Linked DNA regions of Homo sapiens: region 2 is linked to region 1. A link means that fine-mapping ties the variant in region 1 to the expression of a gene that starts in the linked region. Tissue or cell type: whole blood. Region 1 holds a variant in brackets; the other region holds the start of a gene. All regions are shown on one strand. Distances are between the middles of the regions. Region 1 overlaps ARHGEF6 (Rac/Cdc42 guanine nucleotide exchange factor 6). Region 2 holds the start of CD40LG (CD40 ligand).

Region 1 (4,399 bases):
TGTCCCATTGTGCTCTGGCTGTGAGTTGGAGCTAGTTTTAGAGCATAGGCATGAACAGGGGAGGGTGGCTTGTAGTGTTTGCCATTTATTCAGTTTTACAACAAAAACGGTTGAAAATATAACCAATTCCAGAAAAAGCAGTAAAATCCCACAGTTCTTTGCAACTTCTCTTCTCTATGATAATGAGGTCATGGTGCTTTGTGATGGCATTTAGAGGAACCTCTATTACCTGGGACAGGCAAGCAGTTGCAGATGTTGCCCACACTCAGCACACAACTTAAAAAATTAACAACCGTAGAGTCTGAAGCACCTTTGGTCACCTCGTGGTCACAGAGCTTAATTTTGCTGATGAGCACAGGTACATCTAATTTTAGATGTTACATGTTTCCTGGAAAATTGCGTGGAGATTGTTTTTTTTCTTTCCTAAGTGATATCTCTTTCTGAGTTTATTATACTTTCTGCAATACTTTTTCTTCAAGTATGATTAATCATCTATTGATGAGAACAGCTAAACTCTCATTAATTAACCAAATATCTATTGAGTGCCTACTGCGTGACAGGCACTCTTCTAGACACTGAGGATCCAGAAGTGAAAAAAAAATTGACATCATGGGGCTTACGTTCTAGGCATAATTTACCTTTATAAGTCTCTCTGACAGAGCATCCTGTCAATCAACCAATGAATGGTTATTTATCAAGTATTTCGTGTATGTTGAATATTGGGGCCAGGTCTGTGGGGGAATGCGGACTTCAAAGAGCCTACCTTTTAATAGGAAATTCAGGACTAATCTCAGTACCTGCATAATGAATAAAGAATATTGGGCTGATAGACCACTGACAGCTTAAATTTACAACATCTCTACAGACTATAAAGCTGTAGCTGTTTGGAAAAAAGAAACATGAAGGTAGGTCAGTGAGGACATTATGGATAGCAACAGGTGATACTTGGAAGGGCTGCTGCTGAAGGCGACTAGCAGTGGCTCTTTTGTTTCATGGCCCTCGTTTCTCCCTAGTCTTTGTGTGGGGCTATTTACCACCAGTCTCTGCTGTAAATTCTGGTAGGCTCTGGGGCTCCTACCCTAAATCTTAGTAGCTGCTAGGAAAGCAGGGACCAAGGGAGCCTTCTCTCCATAGGTGAGGCTCCTCTCTAACTGCCTGGATTGTTAAACAGGCACGGAGGAGCTGCTGACTACTGAAATTTCTGAGGGTATTCTCACGGACTTCATATATTTACCTTGATTCTCTCATCACTAAGAGTTCTAAAATAAATAGTACCCTGAATGTCTAGGGCATTTGTTCATCTTTTATATGAAGGGACAAGGAAAAAGCATAAAGGATGTTGGACATTGATTTGGGAACACATGTCTGGCCACTCTTCAATGTAAAAACAAATTATTTTCCAAAAGTTCATTTTTAAGTGATTATTAGGGACACAGAAAACATTTTCCCATAGAAACAAGGCTCAACACGGTGATTATGTTTTCTGGCTGGCCCACAACAGCCTGTTGAATACTTAATGTGGCTGAACTATAGAACTCACAGAGGCTAAGTGGCAGGTGTGATGCTGTTTCTGGGAAAATGTGTTCCGCATTCCAATTTGGAACACTAGGGAGTCAGTCCCTGTTTCTAAAGGGGTGGGAGTGGGGGCATTGGGGAAGACACCCTCATGTCTGGCACACAGATGCTCCAGCAGCTGAGAGATCACCCATCCACCCCACACCGCAAAACTGGCAACCAGTGTGCTTTTGCAAAGGCTCTGGTGACAGGAGCACAGGAGGAGGGGTGGGAGCCCGCCAAGCCACAATGGCTGGCTGACTGTGAGGCAGCTGAGTCTAGGCCTCCTGCTTCCTGTCCTTGGCTTGGCAAGGGCTATTGACAAGAGATATTTCATTTTTCCCTTTCCTTCATGCCTACTCTCTTTTTGGTGAGATTATTCAAAACCAGTTGTTCCTTCTTCTTTTTTCTTTTTCTTTTCTTTTCTTTCGTTGTTTTTTTTTTTTTTGAGGCGGGGTTTCGCTGTTGCCCAGGCTGGAGTGCAGTGGTGCAATCTCAGCTCGCTGCAACCTCCGCCTCCCAGATTCAAGCCATTCTTCTACCTCAGCCTCCTGAGTAGCTGGGATTACAGGTGCCCACCACTGCACCTGGCTAATTTTTGTATTTTTAGAAGAGATGGGTTTCACTATGCTGGCCAGTCTGGTCTCGAACTCCTGGACTCAAGTGATCCACCTACCTCGGCCTCCCAAGGTGCTGGGATTACAGGTGTGAGCCATTGTGCCCAGCCATCAGTTGTTCTCTTTTGCTCTCCCTTTATTTAATCCTGTGACTGGCCCCACTAAGATGCCTATATTGTTCTTCATTCATTCCCCTCTTACCTGAACACTTAATACTCAACTAAAGTCTCTGTTATAGAGAAAGG[G/A]GTTCTCCCCTATAGGAGTGCTAACAAGGAAGAATGGGAGTCCTATGGTGATGCTGAGGTAGCCGTCAGGGAATGAGATTTGTGACTTAATGAAGAGTGAGGGAGAAAGCTCAGATCTTGGCTTCTGTCATAGGAGCTCCATGGAGCTGAACTTCCTGGCTCTAGATTCTATGAGGTTCGAGTAATCTAGGAGTCCATATTAGTTATGTAAAGTGACTTTATAGAAATCCACAGAGCCAAAAAGAAAACATAGAGAGTTAAAGCTGTCCATGATCACAGTCCAAATGCCACGATGCAGTGGCAGCAAGATAAAGCCAGAATTTATAAATAGGTCATTTAAAAATGACATTTTGAAAAATCAGCTTGTAAACAGGTTGTAAGCATGTTAGGCTGCAATACCCTAGACTCTCTTTGCTCTGATTCTGTAGTACTCAACACATTTCTCATTATAATTTAGCTCACCAGAGAGATTTCTCTATTGGGAGAGAGTGCCCTGGCCAGAAAATGGGAGTATTTAATCTTCTTAGTGCTTCATTTATTTTTAGTAAAAATTAAGAAATTGGCCTTTTGGTTTATGCATTGGCCTTTTATGAGCTTGGCTAGTGTGAGTCCATTCTCAAGAGCCTTGAGAACTGAAGACCTGATTCTGGGCCTTGGGGACCCAGCCAAGATGCTGCCTTTAAAAGCTCCTATTTAGATGATGGACCACAAGACCTCTCACTGAGCTCCTTTGCTCAAAGACACTTTCCAGATGGGAAATGGAGCCTCATAAAGGTAGTGTTGCTTTCCTAAGGTCCTCACAACTGCTCAATAGTGACAAAGCTGAGATTGGAGTCAAAGTCTTCTGACTCTCACATCAGTGCTCTTTCCAATACACTGTATGTTGTTTCAGCTACAGGCACAAATTAGATCTTGGAGAGAAAGGGAGGAAATAAAAGTTGAGAGCAAGATTTGCTCCCTTAAGTTTGGTCCATATCAAATAGGAACAGCTATTATTTAAAACCAGGCAGAGTAGAAATGCCATCCACTATATTCTAGTAAGTGGAATACCAGTGGGTAATGAATCCAATTTCTGAGCTAAGAGCATTATTTGTTGCTGACTTTGTGACTGCTTTTAGTAGGAGCTATGTGCACACATCCCAGATCACGTTCACAGGGCCAGGAGCGGTACCACCCAGTGAAATATGACTAAGCAGCTCAGATTTGCTTGCTCTGTTGCACTATGTAATGACATTTCCACCAAAGTTCAGGGGTTAACAGAGGCAGTGTGCTCAGCTGTGAGAATTAAAGAATGTGATTCAAGATGAGCTAAGTTAATTTAAGATTTTGTTCAATAAGAGCAATAAGAACAAGGAAGAGCTGGAATGTTCCTAAATATTTGGAATCTTTTTTAAAAAACAGGCTTGAAATATAAGCTATATGTCCTTGTGGTCCCAATGTATCACTTGCTTTTCAGTTGATTAGACTTTTAACTCTTGAGTAATGGAACCTATTATAATCACCCCCAACCTTAAATTACCTTTAAATAGCAGTTGATTGGGTGTTACTGAAACCACATGACATTAAAGATGACCAGTTCTGAACCAGGGTAGGGTATGCCTTCTTTTCTTAACTAAGATGTGGCTAGACTGCTGTGACTGGTTAACTCAGGTGGTTAGAGCATGATGTCAAGAAAATCAGGAGGCTAGGTGTCATTGCACGTGGCACAGATGTTTTAGCTTGGTTCTGTAATCACGAGCTGGACCCCTACCAGACCAGGACCTCACAAATATGGATCGTGGCTCACGAGGCAGACCTGGTTCAACAAATAGGAGGAGCTTAGTGTAGCTTTTCCCCTCTTTTGGCAAATGTGGCCAAGTGCCTCCTAGGTGAAGGCTGACCCTTGAAATGGGAAGGACAGCACAGGAATTAGGCAAGGCCCCTGTGGAGACAGTCTTGTAATATGGAAAATTTTCTCTTTGCTACAATTAGTTGAATTAATCA
Region 2 (4,399 bases), 110 kb after region 1:
TCATTTCCACGGCATCAACAAGAGGAGGACTTTCAGGCATAAATGGAGAATAATAAGTTATTATATTGGCTGATTGCTATTTTGTATTTGCAGTTTAAAAATCTATAAAAGACAGCAATTAAGATGTCATGTTATCAGAAACTCCAGGTAGAAATCAGAGCTATTCTACTAAATGTTCACTACAAAATGCATATTTTTTCAACATACTATAGCAGCAATATTCTGTAATTGTCACATTTCTCATTGCTTCAGTAATGATTGGTCATTATAAACATCAGCCTAGAAAATAGTTTTCTGCAGAGCTAATTTGCCCACTTCATTTTAGTGTTTGTGATGCAGTGCTTTATAAAAAGAAGTTAATTTGCAATGTGTCAGTTAACGAGTTCTAATTACATCTCTCTCCCTTTTAACTTTAGTATTTGTAGAAAACATTTGCATTTTTAAAGAAATCATCTTTTATCCTCAAAGTAACAAGATATTTTATTTTCCAATGTCTTAGAATAATTAAATGTACAGAATTCACTTGCATTATCAACTAATTTTATACCATTTTCTTGCTTTAAGAGTAGATTTTTTAGATTCAAAACAAGATTCAGTTAGCTGGCAGCTTCTGCTGTAATTAAGAGCACATGTAAATAGTACGGTAAATATCAGTCCACTGAGGTCACTATTGCCCCTTTAGAAGCTAGGCCTATGTCCATACATTTGATTGACAGAGCACATCAGGCCAAACACAAATAACCAACCAGACCAGAAGCCCCCTCTTTTGTCAGCAGTGAAACCTAATATTTGGATAACCCAGTGGATGACTTCAGCCCTCACTACCTCACCTTATCCTGTTAGAAAAATCTCATGACATTAATTCTAGGTCCAGATCCTAAGAGAGGACACTCAAGTATCCCTGATAAAGTGCAATCATCCAGATGCTTTCTAGCCACAGTTCCTGCATCCAGAATTTTAGGAACAGCCAGAAAACTAATCAACTTTCTCCTTTACATCTATGATTGGTATTTTGTCAACACCAGCCAATTATACTCCTCAGTGGAAGTGAAAAAATACATGAAAACAAAATAAGTCCTGATGGTTTTCTTTTCCTAAGAATGCAAAACAGCCTACTAAGTTACTCTGCTCTTTTGTTCCTGCAAGTCTAACCATTTAAAAATGTAAAACATCTCAGAGGGAGACTGAGCATCCTGCAACTACAATCAGTGCTTGTGAAGAATTACACAGAAAATGCTACTTTTACTAAAAGACTGCAAATTCTGGGACTTATCCATGTCTATGTTAATCTGAAGCATTATGAAATTTTAGATCAAATTGACGCTCTTCTTGCCTAGCTGGAAATTTAAAAGAAAAAAGCTGTCTCCATAAAAAAATAGCTTACTTTTAAAGCAGAACTTTAGCAAATAATTATAGCTAGTGCGTACATAGTGCTTACTATGTATCAGACCCCCTCCTAAGCTTTTTACAAGGCTAAACTCACTTAATCTATGAAATGGACACCAATACCATCCCCATTTCTCAGATGTGGAAACTGAGGCACTTGCCCCAGGATAACAGAGATGGTATGGGCAGAGCCAAGATTTGAACCCAGGCAGTCTGACTCCAGATCCCAAGATCCTAACCAGAGACAAGAATATGAGACTTCATTGACTAGGCAACAAACATTATGCCACAAGACCATTCTTCTATTTGGTTTCTACCATCATCCATCATTTGGGTAGAACCAACCTATGAATTAGTAAGGACCCCAAATTTAGTTAATAAAGGCTTGTGGTTCATCTTACCTTGTCCAACCTTCTATGAAGATACACAGCAAAAAGTGCTGACCCAATCATCTGGGTGATAAGAAAAACAGTAAGTAAATACATAAAAATTTTCATGCTGATGGGCAGTCCAGTGGCCGCAGATCGGGGAGAAGTTTGGTTGTATGTTTCGATCATGCTGTGTTAAAGTTGAAATGGTATCTTCTGGCAGAGAAGGTGGCAGAGGCAGCATGAGAAGACTGTCAAAGTGGCCACCTTACTCAGGATTAGTTAAGAGCGCACAATCGTTGCAGCCCACACTTCCTGGAAAATGTGCTTCGTAGTCTTCTCTCCCAGCAAAAACGTTACGTAAAGGTTTTTTGTTTTTTTTTTTTTTTTTAATTATACCCATATCATTCACTTCCAGGCTTTCCTTTTTGTAAGTAAAGAAGAAACAAGTTTCTTCTTCCATATATTCATTCTTGCCTTGAAATGTCATAGACTTCTTAACAGACAATGGCAGTATTTTCCTATCACTGTCTAACTTTTTGGGTTCACCAGTTTCAAGGAAAGTGACAAATTCATCCACCAGCAATAGACTTATTTCAATTTCAATCTTACTAATACGAAGCGGGAACCTGGTATATGGAGAAAGAAACACATGTCAACAAAAGTTTGGATTGATTTTATGACTGGTGTCCCATCAACTAATTGCTTCTCAGAACTTTACTTCTTTAATCACTAAACTCAATGAAAGCCTGGCAGGTTTTCAGGTCAAGTCTACATGGCATAAAGCAAAAAAAGCATGCTGATGGTTATTAAATAAAATTTAGCTGGAAAGATAATGCAAGAAAAATAAATTTTGCAAAGGCAAAGATAAGTAGGGTCTTGAGGGAAATCAGGCCAAGACTCTGGAATTGAAGTTAAAGTAAAAATCGTGACTTGACGTAGCTAAGCTGCCTGTGTACACTGTTCCAATCCATTAGATAATTGTTGATGCTGATGTAACAGTTCAGAATAGGGAAAATAGGCTGCAGTTAAGAGATCTGAATTCTAGTCTTTGCTCTACCAATAAATTGCTATGAGCCTTGGGCAAATCACTTCATCTCTTTAGACCTCAGTTTCCTCATACCCAAAGGAGGCACTTGCACCTGTCTTGCTTATCCTGTAGGTTGCTGTGAAGATCTAATAAAGATGTGCATGGAAGAAATTTGAAACACGTTAAGCAATAAACAATTCTCATCCTGAATTTTTTGGAATTTATTTAGCCTAAGACATGAGTTTAACAAATAATTGCCAACTCCTTACATGTTGGTAAAAACCAAATGAACAATAACAATATTAAAAACACCTTAAGTTTTGACAATGAATTGAATCACTGAAGTGTGTAGGATTACACATTTCTGAAGGGCTTTTGCATCATCTTATCAGATTTCCTTCAAACTAAAAGCAGCTGTGGAAATCCCTACCTCACATCCAAACCTGGTCTAGAAACCATGATAAAATTGCTTTGATGATTCCTATAAAATTGTTTTGAGAGACAAATAGGAAACGTAAAAACTGCTCTGATAGGCATGCTATCTATATAGTTAGCACCTGCTTTCTTCCCCTCCCACGCCCCAGCATCCTGTCCTGGGCCCAGATCTATGTAGCTTTTCACTACATCTGCCAAGTAGGTGGCTTCGATGCACGTGATGAACTTTGATCAGTCAAGTCAGAGGCTTTGGTTCTTAGACAAGTAACCTTAGTTCCACTGAAGGAAAATTATCATGAGAGCCAAAATGGGCTCAAGGACTTCTGCACTGTCAGTTTTATACAACTTGAGAGTGCCAGAGCTGCAGGGGCCCTGCAATCAGCTCAGCCAAGACCCGAGGGAGGGGAGGCTGAAGGTCACAGATTTGTTCACGTGACCAACTTGAAAAAACAGTTGTTGTCCAACCTCCTTGCCTCAACTTCTTGATCCCCAGCCTCCTACAGTCTGACTTCTGCCCACAATATTCCCCTGAAATTGATCCCACCATTATTAGCTCAATAATAGTTTTGGCTGAATACTTCTTAGAGTTTATTTTTAGCGACCTCTCTATTACTCTGTTGACCTATTATCCTGTTGTCATCTTCCTGAATGCTCTCCCCACTTGAATTCTATATCACCCTATTCTTAAGGGCTTCTGCCTCTCAGAATCCTTCTTCATGTTATCTTCTTTCCTCTTTGTATCCCTTAAAACTTTGGTATTCCTTCTCTCTATTTCCTTTCCTTCTCCCTTCTCCTCTCCTCCCCTCTCTTCTTGTTCTCCATGGTTTCATTGGGTGATTCATGGGTTTCATGAACTTTCATGGGTTTCAATCTCACCTTCATTGTGATAAATCTCAAATCTATAACTGAAGTCCTGAACTTCAGAGTTGTAAGCACAGCTACCTCTGAAAATCTCTACTTGGATATCCCAAAGCCATCTTACATTTGGTATGCTCTAAAATTAATTTATCTCACCACTCTAATTCCAATCCAGACCTGTTCTCCCTTAAGATTCTCCGTATCTCTGTGAATGGTCCCACCACCCACTTAATTGCCCAAGTCAGAGATCTGGGATCCATTCATGATTTTTCACTCTCTCTTGCCCCAGATTGCCCCAATCCCAGTGGCTTCTTCCTCCAAA

The links. PIP is the estimated chance that this variant, and not a neighbour inherited with it, causes the effect.
Region 2: it holds the start of CD40LG, and the variant in region 1 is the best candidate, but not a certain one, in a credible set for the expression of CD40LG in whole blood (TOPMed, PIP 0.50).

Annotation. Positions count from the first base shown.
Region 1 is chrX:136,752,186-136,756,584 of GRCh38, reverse strand. The region is part of intron 2 of ARHGEF6 (Rac/Cdc42 guanine nucleotide exchange factor 6); the gene reads left to right. Among named protein-coding and RNA genes, the nearest start is that of ARHGEF6, 27 kb to the left of the region's middle. The variant G/A (reference allele first, on the strand shown) is at 2,417.
Region 2 is chrX:136,645,793-136,650,191 of GRCh38, reverse strand. CD40LG (CD40 ligand) reads right to left here and starts at 2,034. Exons shown (of 5, transcript NM_000074.3): 1 at 1,788-2,034. The coding sequence starts at 1,943.